Regions from separate parts of the Homo sapiens genome. Here region 1 is linked to region 2. Evidence: fine-mapped expression QTL. A gene starts in region 2. The other region holds a variant in brackets. All regions are shown on one strand. Distances are from middle to middle. Region 1 overlaps GALNT7 (polypeptide N-acetylgalactosaminyltransferase 7). Region 2 holds the start of GALNT7-DT (GALNT7 divergent transcript).

Region 1 (5,374 bases), 130 kb after region 2:
TCTTTTTTTTAAGGTTTTGATATACCTTGATGCCCACTGTGAGGTGGCAGTTAACTGGTATGCACCACTTGTAGCTCCCATATCTAAGGACAGGTAACATTACCTTGCTTTTTTTCTTTCCTGGTTGAAAGTAAACCTTGTCCTAGAAGGGCAAATAATATTTTCATCCTTTGATTCCAGCTCCATTCAGTGCATCGAGTGTGCTTTAGTGTTATCCCTCATCTATTTGTTTCCTTGGGTGGAGCTAGACTGATACTGTGGACTGATTTAAATGTAGGCAGTCTGGCATTTGGGAGAAACCTAGGGTTCCTCACTCAAGAATCATTTTGTGGTTGGGTTATTAAGACCCCTCTATCTCCAGGCACTTTCTCTAAGAGTTATATGAATTGCTCCCTCTAAACTGGGGTGAGAGTTCTAAACACTTGAGGAACCATGCTTTGATATTATACCTGTTGATTTTTGTGCCTTTTAAATTAGTACTTTCAATAGTAAAGACCAGGTGTTACTTGTGTCAAGGTTTTGGGTTCCTATAGAAACTTTAAAGTTTAGAAATAGACAACTATTCCATGGAATTGTGACAATCACCATTAAATTTCCAGAAATGTCTAAAACAACATAAGGCACCATCAGTTTTCTATCTCCAAAAGCCTTCCTTGCTTCTAGTCCATAATTAGGAAAATAAAACACGTCCATGTGGCAAATGGCAAATGGCATGAATCAAAGGCAGAACTTTGGAGGATTTAATCATGAGAGGATTTAATGTGAAGGCCGAACATGAACATTTTTCACATGCTGTCTGATTTAATCCTCACAGCAACCCTGCAAGATAGAGATTATTAGCCCCATTTGACTGAAGAGGATACTGAGGCTTAGAGAAATTAAGTAATTTTCCCCAAATCAGAGAGCTAATAAACTGTCAGACCAAGGCCTCCCTGGGAAAGTTTACACTGCACCATGTATTTAGGAATGTGAAAATCATAAGTGAGGACAGTTAACTGACCAAGTGTCAGGTAACTTTCTCTAGGTGAATACCAGCAGGCTTCTGGGCAGTGAGGAAGTGGTTTTCCAGATTCCAGTGGCAGATTCCACAAATCTGACAATGACCCTCCAGTTCACACTCTGGAGAGAAGGAAGCATCTTTCTGGACTTTACTTCCTCCATATTAAAGTTCTAAGCACTGTAGGTTTTCCCTTTTCCTTGGTTTTTAAACTTCTGAAAAGCAGCTTGACCTGGATATAAAAAGCTGTCATTTTCATTTTAGGAAAATAGATTTTAAAATCCTTTCTGACGAGATGAACATTGTAACAAGCAGGGTACCAGATAATCTTTGTAATGTCACTTTGACATCTAATTGGTTATAGAGTACTAGCATTTTCGTGAAGCCCAAATATAAGAGATTTTTTGATCCAAATTCTCAGACCACTTCTGAAGTTCTTCAGCAAGTTTTGAGGGATTTTTTTTGCTTTTTTTTTTTAAAGCAACAATACCTTTTTTTTTTGTTTGTTTTGCAATAAAAGCTGTTTTCTGCAGTTAGAGGAGTGAGGAAGATCAAGTAAAAGTACAGAAACACATTTTCATAACTGTTCCCAAGAAATAGCAACAAAGGGTTGAGAGAACCGCTAAGAATGTGGCAAGTACTATCTGTGACCCCACACACACGCACACGCATGCACACGCACACGTGAGCTTTTTCATGGGTGATAGGGAAAATAACAGGCAAGAAAATCTTATAAATAAGGTAAAATTACCAAAAGAAAGTTGCCTTTAGGACCAAAGCGAAAAGGAGAAAACTCTATTAAGCTCAGTGATATAGTTCTTTGTCCCTGACATTTGTCTGTAAGCCTAGGGGGAAGTCTCCTCTCTCCTGCCCTTACGTAAACAGGCTTTTCGGCTTTTATGGGACATTCATTTACTCTATTTCCCATTAGATATTAAAGTCCCCTAGTGCACAAACAAATCAACAACAAAAAGAGATAACGTAGTTAGGCATGCTGAACTAGTCTTGGGTTCTTAAATGCTTTTTCATTTTCTGTAAATGTTTCAGAACTACATGTACTGTGCCTCTAATAGATTACATAGATGGGAATGATTATTCCATTGAACCACAGCAAGGTGGGGATGAAGATGGTTTTGCCAGAGGGGCCTGGGACTGGAGTTTACTATGGAAACGTATTCCTCTAAGCCACAAGGAAAAGGCCAAAAGAAAACATAAAACTGAACCTTATCGGTAAAGACTATTACTTTATTTTCTTATGTTGAATGTTTATCTAAGTTCTTTTTTTTTTCTTCCCCATGAACTCGTATAAATGTGTGGGTCCATACATACGCTTCCATTTGATCTTTGCTGCCATCAACACAATACAGAACCATTTGCACTGTGCCGCTTAT[A/T]GATGTCATAAATGGCAACACATATGAAATTATACCCCAAGGGGGTGGTGATGAAGATGGGTATGCCCGAGGAGCATGGGATTGGAGTATGCTCTGGAAACGGGTGCCTCTGACCCCTCAAGAGAAGAGACTGAGAAAGACAAAAACTGAACCGTATCGGTAATCACTAAATCACTTACATATTTTTCTTTTCTCCAGTTGCTGCTAACCTATTAACCTCTTGCCAAGCTAAAGATTCGTTATTAAAACTGTAGATGTTGTCTCAGATTCTGAAAGAACATCTTTCCTTACACTGTTTCAGAGCTTTCAATCTGCTCCATTTGCTCCATTGTAATTGCTTTTACCCTAAATGTGATGTCCACTACTGAGACGTACACACTTTCATTGGGGAAAGAAAAATAATGTAACATGGCATTTGTTCCACGTACAAGTGAAAAAAAGATAAAATCTTAGTTATCCTGTCCTACTGGATTAGACATCAAATTTTATTCTTTTGATGACAGTGTCATTCTATAAATTTAAAATACATAAATTACTTTAATCCAACCAAGACTTTTATTTCCACGTTCATGCCGTGGGTATAATGTTAACAATGAAGGGCACTAGCAAGAGATTTCTGGGTTTTTCTCCCCTTTTGCTGTTATGTTAACTCTCAAATACTAATTTTGTACTAGTTAAATCTGATGAATCACAATACATGACTTTAAAAAATGTTACATAGAATCCTTTATTGCTTCATTCTCAGAAAAGTGATTGATTAAAAGAAAACTCTATTCAAAAATCAGCTTTTGTCCCTTCTTGTGGTTCTTTCAGTAGAACAACTTATGCTACTCTCTTCTTTTGATCTTGTAATTAGAACATTTTACTGTCTCTGTAAAAAGTGACCCCAAATGAAATGTTTGCTCAAGTGTTAGTATAGCCTTCTCCTGAATGTGTCTAATCTTATTTTTCTGATCCTATGGTTCTGCTTTTGGTCTCTCTCTCCCTGTTACACTGCTGGTGATGTTAGAACTCTGTTTTGGGAAGGTGCTTCCAATGTTATGGAAACGCTGTGGGATTTGGGCATGTCATGATATCAAGATACTGAATGGCAAACATAAAGAAGTTATAGCACTTAATTAATCATAGTAGCTTAATTGGACATTTACCAAATTTTTTTTGGTAAATTTCTTATTCAGAATAGTCCAGGAATCAACTGCTTACGTGCTTAACTTAACAAATAACTGTGGGAGAAAAAAAATAAAGGGTGCTGAGCAAATTTATATTTCTGTTAATTCCATAGGCCAGTAAAGAAAATTTTTAAAGTGACCTAGAAAAATTAAAGGGAGGTTATCTGTTGATTAACTCACTGGTGACCATGTTAAGATGCATTTTCAAGTATATACTGAGATGAATGGGAACATATTTGAAGAAAAATAAACCCAGCTGCCGGGCAAGGTGGCTCACACCTGTAATCCCAGCACTTTGGGAGGCCGAGGCAGGCGGATCACCAGAGGTCAGGAGTTCGAGATCAACCTTGCTAACATGGTGAAACCCCATTTCTACTAAATATACAAAATTAGCTGGGCGTGGTGGTGTGTGCCTGTAATCCCAGCTACTTGGGAGGCTGAGGCAGGAGAATCGCTTGAACCTGGGAGGTGGAGGTTACAGTGAGTCAGGATCACGCCATTGCACTCCAGCCTGGGCAACAGAGTAAGACTTGGTCTCAAAAACAAAAAAAAAAAGACACAGCTATAACGGAATAATCTTAAATGACAGTTAAATAAAGGTGACATGAAAATATCACCTAAAATGTAATAGTGTTGTTACTGTGTTAGGCAGCATATTTTAAGAAGAAAAAGCATGAGAGAACAACTTTTTTCTGATGCTATTTTCTTCTAGTATTGAAAATATTTCTTGATTCATTATCCACTCAACAAACGTTTATTGAATGCTTACTGTATGCCAAGCACTGTTTTCTGGGGATACATTTTTAAAGATATGTTTCCTCATTGAATTTAAAATACAGTGAATCAGACAGAAATTAAACAGATAACTGCATAAATAACCCTAAAATTAGCCTGGTGTGGTGGCACGTGCCTGTAGTCCCAGCAACTCAGGAGACTGAGGCAGAGGGATTGCTTGAGCCCAGGAGTTCAAGGCTTCAGTGAACAATGATTGTGCCACTGTACTGCAGCCTGGGCAACAGAGTGAGACCCTGTCTCACAAAACAAACAAAACTCTGGAACAGCAGCTGTGATAAGTAGTATGAAGAAAAATCACAGAGTACATGAGTTTATGGAAAGATGAACCTAATCCAGCTTGGGAGATCAGGAAAGGCCCTTCTGACAAAGTGTCATTTAGGCTGAGACCTGAAGGATGAGGGACCAATTCTGTGGAAAAGGAGAAGGAACATTTCAGGATCGTGAATAACATGAATGAAGGCCTTAAGACAGAAAGGAGGCTGGCACGTTCCCGGTGGGAGCAGAGCCGTGAAGGACTCAACGGGAAGAGAGTCCATGGTGAGCCCAGAGAGCCGGGAGAGGCTGGTATCATGCAGGCGCATGTGGAGGAGTCTGCTCTGGCCCCTGTGTGATTAGCCTTGAGCAGGGGGCAGAAGACAATAAAGGACACAAGCTCGGGAGATATTGGAAAGTCCAAGCAGTGTTGGCCTGGTCTAGGCTGGTGGCAGTGAAGTTGGAAATAAGTCAGCAGATTCAAGATGTATTTTCAAGGCTGGGTGCAGTGGCTCATGCCTATAATCCTAGCACTTAGGGAGGCCTAGGCAGGTGGAACTTTTGAGCCCAGGAGTTCTAGACCAGTCTGAGCAACATGGCGAAACCCCATCTCTACAAAATACATAAAAAGGTAGCTGGATGTGTTGGTGTGCGCTTGTAGTCCCAGCTACTCAGGAGGCTGAGGTGGGAGGACTGCTTGAGCCCAGAAGGTCAAGACTGCAGTGAGCCGCAATCATGCCACTGTACTCCAGGCTGGGCCATAGAGTGAG
Region 2 (5,374 bases):
GCACTTGTAGTCCCAGCTACGGGGGAGGCTGAGGCAGGAGAATTGCTTGAACCCGAGAGGTGGAGGTTGAGGTGAGCCAAGATCGCACCACTGCACTCTACTCCAGCCTGGGTGACAGAGTGAGAGACTCCGTCTCAAAAAAAAAAAAAAAAAAAAAAAAAAAAAAAAAAAAAAAAGAAAAGAAAAAAAACCCCAAAAAACTTAGGATAAAATCTTAAAACGTTTTGTTCGACTTAAATTTAAATTAGCAGTTTAGGATATAGTACACTGATAATGTAATTACATACATTCTGCTATAAAGGCATAGACATCTTTATTGGGAGATATGGGCAGAAAAATTATTTCCTCAGGGTGGGGCATTTGGCTAAACACTTGCCAATATCCTTTACTGTGTAATTTAGGTAACACAGGCAGAAAAGGCGTTTGAAAAGCAGAAATCAAGTGGCAAATATCAGATCTGAGGGACGCAATGAGGGTGGAGTTGAAATCCGTGGTCCTTGGATTTGAAACTTACCAGCCCGTGAACAAGGTTGGTATTGCTTTTGGCATAAGACGACAGCCTTTCTTTTCATTAGCTCAGGAGGAATACTGGCTTTCCAAGTGAGCTCCTCCAATCCAGTGATATTTGCACATCTCACCTGGGCCTTTCGGTTACAAATTCACCACCTTAAGGAGCCGTGTGAAAAAGCAAGAACAATCAATAAGAAGGAAAAAAAAAAACCCTTCAGCTATAAATCAGCCACGTGGAGCTGCTGCAGCAGCAGCGGTAGTCCCACTTCCTGGTTGGCTTCCTGAAAGCCTCTCGACAAGGGGCTCAGGGAAGTGGGTCTAAGGGAGAGGTGCAGACGAGAGCGACTCCAGGTCCAACGGAGGGGGCGGCGGGCCACGGGATCCCGGAGGGCACAGGCGTTAAGGACGGAGTTATTGTCCATAATTACAATAAAAGTTTGGGGATCTGAAAGCTTTAAGGAGCTGAGCTGCAGGGCAAAGGCTAAGAACCGGACTCGGGAAAAGTGCAAGTTAGTTACAAGGTAGCAGGGACTGTGAAGGGGGCTCGCGTGGAGAGCAGGGGACTGCGGATCTGGAAGGGGGCAGGTAGAGAGGAAGGCAGCCTGGCAGAGCGAGGCACACGGGTCAGTCGGAGCTCTGCGGTGGCCGCCAGAGGGGAGGGGGCCACGGGGAGGAGCGGAGGGAAGAGCCCGGGGAAAGGTGTAGCCGAGGGGAGTTCCGGATCTGGAGCTGGAAAGGGCAGGCAGCGGAGAGGGCGGCAGCCGTAGCGGTAGGGGTGGGGGAAAGAGGGGGAGGAGAGCCGGAGGAGGGGGAAGGAGGGAGGGGAGAGCGGTGGCGGCGGCTGCGCCGGGCTGTGAGTCTCTCGCCGCCGGAGGAAGATGAGGCTGAAGATTGGGTTCATCTTACGCAGTTTGCTGGTGGTGGGAAGCTTCCTGGGGCTAGTGGTCCTCTGGTCTTCCCTGACCCCGCGGCCGGACGACCCAAGCCCGCTGAGCAGGATGAGGGTGAGTGACCCGCCCGGCCCCCTCCGGCGGCAGCGACCGGCAACTTGTTTTGTTTGCCCGCGTGTGGAGGGAGCAGGGGCGGCGGGGTCGCGGCACGGCGTGGGCACCGCAGCTCCGCAGGTGGTGCTGGCGCAGCGCGGGCCGAGGGGGTGCCGAGCCCCGCGCACTCCGACCTCCCTGGCCGCCGCCGGCCCGCCCCCTCGCCGCCCCTTCCTCCGCTCTTCCCCGCCCCGGGCTCCGTCGCCGACACCCGCGCTGCCGCGGCAGCGGCTCGGGCGGCCGCTCTCCGCGCCGGGACTGCGGGCGGAGCGGGCGGAGAGCCGGGTCCGGGGGGCTGCGGCCGCCCGGCGTCCCGCTCTGGGGGGCCGGGACCGCAGCGCTCACGGCCCGGGGACGCGGGGTTGGTCCAGGCTGCGGCCTGTGGCGCGTGCAGGCCTGAAGGAGGCGAGATGCCGATGCCGCCACCGCTGGTCCGGTGGACCAGGCCCCTTGGTCCAGCCTCCCCTCCCGCAGCCGCCCGTCTGGGGGTGTTCGCAGCCCCGGGCTCCCCCGGCCCGCCCGCCGGGGAGTGGGAGGGCGATGGCGCCCCGCCTCCGGCTCTTACGGAGAGCGCGCCTCCCCCTCAACTCCGGCGGCGGGGAGCCGGGGTGCGATGCGCGGCCGAGGCCTCGCCCGGACCGCCGGTCCCCCTCGCGTCCCTGGGCGAGGGAGGGGCGGTTGGCCGGAGATGGCGGAGGGGCGTCCCCGCCCCGCCTGCCCGCCGCCCCCAGCCCTCAGCGCCTGGGGAAGCCCCTGCTGTGGCAGTGCTCGGGCGCTATCCGGGGGAAGAGGAGCAGTTCCTCTTCCTTGGCTGCGGCAGGGCTGCTTGGGCCGGAAAACTAACTTGTGTCGGCGCCCGGCCGCCCCGCGCCGGCTGCCGGCTAGCTCAGGCCGACGCCGAGGGGAGCGGCGGCGCGGAGCTCGCGGCGGCTCCGCTGGGACGCATTTGTCTGCCGCCCAGGGCGCGAGTGTTAGCGCTGACATTCCTTGGATTTGGAGGGTTTAGTCAGGCGCCTCGGAACATTAGTTACCCGGAGCCGCGCCGCGCGGGGAAGGGACCGCGGGCACTGCGGCTTCCCTGACCCGGCAGCGGGCGGCGCGCACCGGCCTCGCCCCCGACCCTGACCTGCTTCCCCCCGGATGAACCGTTGCACCACCTGCTTCCTCCTCCCCGCTGGGACAGCCAACTGGGCCGGCTGCCAGTGGGGGTAGGAGAGGGTATGAGGGGCTCACGACCGCCGAGGCGGCGGGGCTGCAGGAGGAGTCGAGTCGCTCTCTCTGTTGTAAAGTGCTTTTTGCAAGTGTGATGAGCATCGCTTCTATGTCATGTTTATTTAACTTTCCTTCTGGAAAGTTAGCATCAAGAAGTTGGGCAAAAAGGCTTGTGGCGTCCTTTCAAGAGTAAGAATCCTAGGAGGAGATCCCATTATCAGCTCTTCGCCTATATCATGAGATTAGATGTAATCTGGAAGTTTTAGTATTTGAAGTCTCTACAGCAGTGGAATCCCTTTGTAATATCTGGGATAGATTCCCATCTAAGTCATCTAAATTGATGGTAATAAAAAGTATCAGTTTTCCTTTTCAGTACATTTGCGGTTTTAAGCTTCTCAGCTCATGGAGTGATGGTGATCTTTTTATAATTTTGCTCTCAATATGACTTATTGACAAAGGATAACTGAATATTGCAATTGAGGATATTTGTTTTAAGTCATCAAATGGCTTTTTACATGTAGCTAGAAATGTTTAACCCCCTATTTTCTGGTAGAGAAACTGACGAAAAACTGACAAAACTAGCTAGGTTCAGAATGTCCCGCCCTTCTGATGATCTTTTAAAGAGGTGGCGGAACATCAGCATCACTTGCCAACTCGTGGAATATTTTATTAGTGCAAACAAAGGATGGGCCATAATGCCCATTTCAGTACTATATGGTGATGATAAAGAAGGTGATGATATCTTGATTTTTTGTTTGTTTCAGTGTACTTGATAAAGTTTCTCAGTGGATCCAGTGTAATTTCTGTCATTTGTCAAAAACAAAAGGTAGATTTTAAAGACTTAACATAATTAACATTAAGAGGAATGCTTAGGTATCAGAAGAGCAAGAAAGACCCTTTTATTGGCTTCCCAGGTAAATAGTAATACAAGCAATTTAAAGTGTAGCTTATAAATAATAAGAGCATAAATAAGGGATTATTGCCTTCCTTTAATAAAGACTAACCTAGGAGCTTTTAAGGTACAGTGCTAGAAGGACAAATCCTGTAGGGAGGATTCTGACTCCTGAGTTTCTCCTCCCCCTTGTGGTTCTTTTACTTCGATGACTATTGCATATATTCCACCCATGGTGAGATCTCTGCTTCTCTTTAATGCTGATCTACACATGGACTTTTTTGGATCCCTTTAAATAGCCTGAACGATCCAGTTTACCAGGTATGGGTTCTGCCTCTACTCCAGCAAGCTTGTACCTGTGGCTCCATTCACCCTGTGCCACTTTTTGTCTTGAACTATGAATATGTCATACACTAAATTCTGTTACAGCCTTGACAACTTGGGATGGTCCTTTCTCATCTGCACTATTTCCTTGTTTTAGGTCTGTCCACCTGTGGAGTCAAGACAAAAGAAACATGTTTCTTATTTCCTTCCCATCTCTGGGCCTCTTGCCCTTTCTCTGAAGTGAATGATGTGAAAAATGACCTTACATTTCCGATCATATTCTGTTGTGTGATTTTAAATATTGATTTATTTGAACATTTTTGAGTGCCAATTATATACCAGGCATGGTACTAGTTGTTAAGGAAATACTCCTTGTCCTTAATCTCATGGATCTTGTAAAAACCACACAGCAATCAAACCTCGATAAATATATAAATAAAAATTGTGCTACTGCTTTCATAGTGAAAACCATAGGGGGCAAGAAAATGGAGGAATTTGGTCATAAAAGCCTTACTTGAAGAAATGACTATTAGCAGTAGCAAATCCACACAGGTCTGAAGCAACTCGATTCTTACCTCCTGTGGGAAAGAATTTATTGGAGGGGCATAAGGCAGAGTGAGAGACCGAGGCAAATTTTTGAGCAGGAGTGAGAGTATTAAAAAGCTTTAGAGCAGGAACGGAAGGAAGTACACTTTGAAGAAGGCCATGTGGGCTACTTGAGAAATCCAAGTACCTCGTCTGACCCTGGACTTGGGGTTTTATACATTGGCATGATTCCAGGGTTTGCGTTTCTTCTCCCGTGATTCTTCCCTTGGGGTGGGCTGTCTGCATGCGCAGTGGCCTGCCAGCAGCGGGGAGGGGCTGCCTGCAGTGTGTTTACTGAAGTTTTACTCATGCTCACTTGAGGCATTTTTCCCTTACAATTTGAGCCTTCCTAGAGGAAGGGCATATACTAGTTAAAAGCTGCCATTTTGCCTATTAGTGCACATGCTGGAGCCCACTTGCCCAACTCCTGAGATCTTAGTGGGAACCTGCTGATAACCAGCTTTAGGTGTTTTCTATCTAATGGGAGACTGCCTTTCCATGGTGTTGGCGCGACCAATTATTATTTCAGAGAGACAGTTTAACAACGGCCTGACCATCACCTGATGGCCGCCTGACATTCCTGGTGGTGGGGGGCCTTTCCTGCCCTGCTCATGTCTGCCTAGCTGCCTACTCTGACTTTTGAGGCGAAATCTGAACATTTCAAGAAAAGTAGTTAATCTGGAAGTGGGTGGCAGCATTCTTGAGAAGGAGCATTTGGGCAAAGGTCCTGAGGCAGGAGGTAGCATGAGTGAAATAGTGAGAAACTAGGAGATAAATATTGTTGGAACGTGGAGAATGACAAGTAGAA

The links. PIP is the estimated chance that this variant, and not a neighbour inherited with it, causes the effect.
Region 1: its variant is the best candidate, but not a certain one, in a credible set for the expression of GALNT7-DT in iPS cells (PhLiPS, PIP 0.84).

What each region holds. Positions count from the first base shown.
Region 1 is chr4:173,295,751-173,301,124 of GRCh38, forward strand. GALNT7 (polypeptide N-acetylgalactosaminyltransferase 7) reads left to right here. Exons shown (of 12, transcript NM_017423.3): 5 at 14-93; 6 at 2,365-2,547. Among named protein-coding and RNA genes, the nearest start is that of MIR548T, 30 kb to the left of the region's middle. The variant A/T (reference allele first, on the strand shown) is at 2,389.
Region 2 is chr4:173,167,448-173,172,821 of GRCh38, forward strand. It overlaps GALNT7-DT (GALNT7 divergent transcript), which reads right to left and starts at 2,205. Exons shown (of 7, transcript NR_134242.1): 1 at 1,417-2,205; 2 at 515-666. GALNT7 (polypeptide N-acetylgalactosaminyltransferase 7) reads left to right here and starts at 1,364. Exons shown (of 12, transcript NM_017423.3): 1 at 1,364-1,514. The coding sequence starts at 1,389. RefSeq lists an enhancer at 633-732 and silencers at 1,043-1,092, 1,163-1,282, 1,513-2,742.